2 separate regions of the Homo sapiens genome follow, and region 2 is linked to region 1. Evidence: fine-mapped expression QTL. Tissue or cell type: whole blood. Region 1 holds a variant in brackets; the other region holds the start of a gene. All regions are shown on one strand. Distances are between the middles of the regions.

Evidence for each region. PIP is the estimated chance that this variant, and not a neighbour inherited with it, causes the effect.
Region 2: DAP starts here. The variant in region 1 is fine-mapped to the expression of DAP in whole blood (INTERVAL, PIP above 0.99).

The regions. Positions count from the first base shown.
Region 1 is chr5:10,690,060-10,692,740 of GRCh38, forward strand. All of the region lies in intron 2 of DAP (death associated protein), which reads right to left. Among named protein-coding and RNA genes, the nearest start is that of DAP-DT, 70 kb to the right of the region's middle. The variant A/G (reference allele first, on the strand shown) is at 1,572.
Region 2 is chr5:10,759,858-10,762,538 of GRCh38, forward strand. It overlaps DAP (death associated protein), which reads right to left and starts at 1,377. Exons shown (of 4, transcript NM_004394.3): 1 at 1,157-1,377. The coding sequence starts at 1,211. It overlaps DAP-DT (DAP divergent transcript), which reads left to right and starts at 1,179. Exons shown (of 3, transcript NR_187555.1): 1 at 1,179-1,359. RefSeq lists silencers at 933-1,362, 1,443-1,912 and an enhancer at 1,435-2,280.

The DNA of each region.
Region 1 (2,681 bases):
GAACCCCATGTGTCCAGCACTTCCGCAGGCGAGGTCCTTGCTTTAAGACTGCACTTTTTACACAATATTCAAGAATTGTGTTGCATGAGAAAGTCTTATCGAGCCGCAAGAGGCGACTCGGCGGGAAGTGACAGGACACCAGACTGAGGGTCTCCTTTAGCTCTGGTCTGCTCAAGGCAAACGTTCTTCCTAAAGACAGTCCAAGCTCTCCCTCCCTTCTAACTTCGCTTTGAAACCCCAGCCAGCTCAGCAACTAATTACAAAAAAATTATGTACCATTTTAGCCATTTTTAAGTATACAGTTCAGTGGCATTAAGTATATTCATATTATTATGCTATCATCACCTTTATCTATTTCCAGAACTTTTTCATCATTCCCAACAGAAAGTCTGTCCCCATTAAACACTAGCTCCCCATTCTCTCCTCCTCCCAGCCCCTGGCCATCACCGTGAGTTTAACTGCCCTAGGGATCTCATGTAAGTGGAATCATACAGTACTTGTCTTTTTGTGTCTGGCTTATTCCATCTAGCATAATATTGTCAAGGTTCATTTATGTTGCAGAATGTGTGGGAATTCTTTTTTGAGGCTGAATAACATTCCACTGTACAGACAGACCACATTCTGCTTATCCATTCATCTGCTGATGGACACCTGGACTGCTGCGAATGGTGCAGCTATGGACGTGGGTGTATAAATATGTGCTCGAGTTTCTACTTTCAATTATTTTGTGTGTAACTCAGAAGTGGAATTGCTGGGTTATATGGTAATTCTGTGTTTAACTTTCTGAGGAATCACCAACCTGTTTTCCACAGCGGCTGTTCCATTTTAGATTCCCACCAGCAACGCACATGGGTTCCTATTTCCCCATATCCCTGCCAACGCTCGTTGTTTTCTGTTTTGTTTTATTCTGTTTTTTTGGATAAAGGCTCTATTCTAATGGGTGTGAGGAAGTATCGTACTGTGGTTTAGATTTAGCAACTAATTTTAAGAATAAGCTTCCCTGCCACAGAATAATAAATATCAATCTGTATTGATCATTCATTAAAGGTCTTTATGAACCAAAAGTCGCCCCCAAAATTCTTCTCTAAAACTGAAAAGGCCATAATTGGCTGTAAGGACATATGGCAGCTGCCCATGAAAAGATGGCAAAAGGCAGGCCTCTTCCAAAATGTCTAACAGCGATATGTATTTTCATGTAACTTGTCCCGTGACAGAGCGTATGTTGTGTTGAAGGTTTTCATCAAGTTTGGCCCAAAGGCTTCAGAGCCCAATCCTTTTTTCCAACTATAATTAACAGCAACTTAAATTGGCAAATAATTATTTATGACGTTTATAAAGTAAAAACAGTTACTAAACTCTTTGAGATGTGGTAGCTTGAACAAAATCTCACAAGCGAGAAACCCCAGTCAAAGGTCTGGGTGTAAGGCTGTACATGCAAAACACACCTATTTTAAATGCCATTAGGCTTCCATGCAAAGTATAACCTACATTTCTCAAGTCTAAGAAGTATGATAGCTGCTTTGAGGATTTATTTAATCTGATGAAAATCATTCTGACAGATGCTGTTTTGA[A/G]GATGCAACATTATTTTCTCTCAGGAAACAGAGAGTGAAAACTATCAACCCTGCCCGCCCCATATCCTCAGGCCTTTCCAGACTTTAAAAACTACACTTATTTAAATTGAAAAGAACTGCAAGCCAGGCAGAATTAGCCAGGATTAGAATCCAGATAACACTTCCTATACACTAGCAGAAACTGCAGCTTTTTCACACCCAGACTAAGCAGCCACCTGATGTCCGTGCACGTGGGTCTCTATTGTCCATCTGGCAAGGACCACATCAAACTCTTAAAAGGACCCTTTGTCCTTAACAAAAGTTTGCTATTACTTATTTTCTAAATTTTCTTAATGAAGATTTATACCTTATTGGCATTCTGTGGAAACTGCAGACAGACAGGATAAAATGCCAGAAACGCTCAGTGACTGAGTAACCCTGTGGAATGCAGATATCATCAAGACTGAGTTTGATGGTCTCATCTTTAAAGGAATGTGGAAAGGGCTGAGAAACCCAAATTCATAGTTTTAAAACTTCCCTAAACTCCCAAACAGCAACTATTTAACTCAATATATTCAAGTTACTGCTACCCCAACATGTAACTCATATAAAAATTGAGAAGACTTTTAACATTCTTTTGTGTTCTAAGGCTTTACACCCTCCCTCATCATCGTGGTGCTCTGACAGCCTGGTTTCTGCCCCAGTTCTGAGAGGTGTAAAGCGATGCACTCTTGTGAGTTAGAGCTGGACAGGAGGTTCCCTACCAGGCAGACGGCTGCTGCAATCTATACCTTCATCCTTTCGCAGTTGAGAGCTTAAGGGCCTTCAGTGGGGGCCGCCTGGATGTCTCCCAGGTGGGCCGGATTCTGTCTCCCTGCACTTAGTCCAGCGCCCATCCCAAGTCTAACGCTCTTCCACAGGACAGTCCTTTGGTATTTGAAGAAGGCTACCACAAGCCCCCAGAACATCCCTTTCCCAGACTCAAAGGCATGATTTCAAATTCCTTCACTCTCTCAGCTATTCTCCCAACTGCATTCCAGTGCGGTTTCTAGAGTTTTGCCTAGAACTGTACGCGACACCCCACATGTACCTACTCAGTCCCCACAGGACACCGATATTGCAATAATACTT
Region 2 (2,681 bases), 70 kb after region 1:
CATTCTCCTGCCTCGGCCTCCTGAATAGCTGGGATTACAGGCGCCCGCCACCATGCCCAGCTAATTTTTCTACTTTTAGTAGAGATGGGGTTTCACCATGTTATCCAGGCTAGTCTTGAACTCCTGACCTCAAGTGATCCACCCTCCTTGGCCTCCCAAACTGCTGGGGTTACAGGCATGAGCCACCGCGCCTGGCCAGGAATCTTTATTGTCAAGAAAATGGCGCAAATGTGCCACCAAAAGAAGCCATGTTTCTCAAAGACTTCTGTTCCTACAAGACTGAGTTTATGACACTAAGGCGTGCTATTAAGACCTAAAAGAACCTCACGCATCCATACATTGAAGTGACTTGGCTTCTGAGACCCAAGGCCTTTGATCTTCTCACCAGTGTCCCTCCATATGGGCCGACTGCCACTGGAAAGGAGAGTAGAAACGGAAACAGACCCGTCTGGACAGAATCCAAAGTGCAAACAGGAACTGTGCCCAGAGAGAGGAGGAGGTGGCAGAAGCATGAAGGCTGCTTAGATCCCTATGTTCTAAGAAAGACCGCTCTTTCCTGGCTTTAACTTCCTTGGCTCAGAAGTTTAGGATTTGCTCAAAATCAGAAAAAGCAACTTTGGGGGAAAAAAAAAATCTGGATGTGGAAGAAACTGGCGGTGAAAGTCATATTGAGTGATTAATGATAAAAATTATTTCCGCTCCTTGGTTCTTGAGTCGGTATGAAACGCTGGCAGCCTCTAATTAATCATCACCATGATATTAACACCACTGACTTTTCATTGCTTCTGCTACTTTCTTTCTAGACATCTGTATCCTCTAAGTAAATATTATCCGCCAAAACTTTGTTATAAGTTGTGCAACTGGGTTCGCCCAAGGCACCGGAGCCTGCGCGCAATCGCACAGGTACGCGGCCGCCCGCGGTCCTCAGGAAGAAACGCTTCGCCGCCGCCGGCAAGCGGGGCCGAAGCTCCGGCGGGCTCCTCCCGGGCCTGGGCGCCCGACCTCTCCGCGGCCCGCGCCCCTCGGGCGGGCATCAAGGCCCGGAACCCGTCTCAGCGCTCGCCGGGGCCCTCCCCGCGGAGCCCCCGCCCGGCGCCCCCGGGTTCGAGCCCGCCCCCGGCACCCGCGCGTGGAGAGAGAGGAAAAGAGTCAGTACCGGCGGGCGGGTGTCCAGCTTTAGTCTCTAGTTTCCCTTCGGGAGGCGAAGACATGACGCGGCGGGGCTTCCGCGGGGCCGAGGCGGCGGCGCGGTTCTCGGGCCGGGCGGGCGTGCGCGAGTGAGCTCAGGTGTGAGCGCCGGGGAGCGAGCGGGCGGGAGAACGACGCGCGCGCGTGGGGCGCCGGGGCCGCGCGAGCCGGGTGAGTGCCACTGCCGTTAAGGGGGCGCGGCCGCCGCGCGCCGACGTGGCGCAGCCGAGCCCACCGACGGCATGCGCACTGACGTCACCGCGGCCCGCCCGCCCTGCTGGGCCGCGAGCCAAGCATACGGTGCGTGCGCAGCCGGCCGCGCCACGTCGGATGCTGTGGCCGGGGGCGGGGGCGGGGGCGGGGGCGGGGGCGGAGGAGGGAGGGGAGAGAAGGGGTGAAGAAGTGAGAGGGAGAAGGAAGGAGAGGGAGGCGGGGTCCCCGACTGGCTGCGGGGACTGGAGTTGCGGAAAGTTAAGTAGGGCCCAGCTGAGGATGGCTCCTGCAGCGAACGCGCTCAGCCGGGCTCCTGGCTACGCGGCGACGGCTGGGTGACTGCGCCCCACAGTGCGGGCCAGGGCCGGGGCGTCCCGGCAGGGAGGCGACCGTCCCCTGAGGCCCTCAGCCCCTGCCGCGGCAGCGCCTAATGAAGCGCGGAAAGGAGAGCCCAGATGGCAGCGACGGGGGCCGAGAGAGCAGGAATTTGTTAAAAGACGATGCGAGGGGAGAGCCTGCTTTCCGAGTGAGGGCCAGCGCTGGGGAGCAGAGACGGTGGCTTCTGTCCCTGCCCTCCTCGTTATGAACCAAAAATAAAATTCTAAGCCCTGCAGCCAACGGATGGACCCTCCCCTCCGCCTGTGGCCTTCTAAGTTATCTTGAAAAACTAGTTCAGGCCTTGATGGGAAGCGGAAGTCAAACATGGCCTCACAAACATCCGCACGGAGACCCTAAGACTAATAGAGGACTCTGATAAGAAACATTTGCAGTGTATTCCCGGCTTCATCTGCATGATAACACCTTGGTCTCCACAACTCCTTCATGCAACCCGGACATTCCCTTCTACTGAGTCCAGGTCTTTAGATGATAACTCTCAACCAGTTGCCAATCAGAAAACCTTTAAATGTACCTATGACCCGGACGCCTCCACTTCACATTTTACCTCCTAAAGAGCCAACCTACATCTTACGTATTGATTGATGTCTCATGTCTCCCTCAAATGTATAAAACCAAGATGTTTCCTGGCCACCCTGGGCACATGTCATCAGAACCTCCTGAGGTTGTGTCAATGCACGTCCTTAACCTTGGCAAAATAAACTTCCTAAATTGAGACCACTCTCAGAAACTTTTGGTTTTCACCATCATCTTCCTGTTGCCGTGGCTGACCCCTGGCTCTCGTGCCTTGGATCGTGTTCTTCCCGCCTGCCCCAGTGTTTTGCAACTGCTGTTAACTTCCGCAATGCCTTGCTGGATTCGCATTCAGACAGGCCTAATCTCTT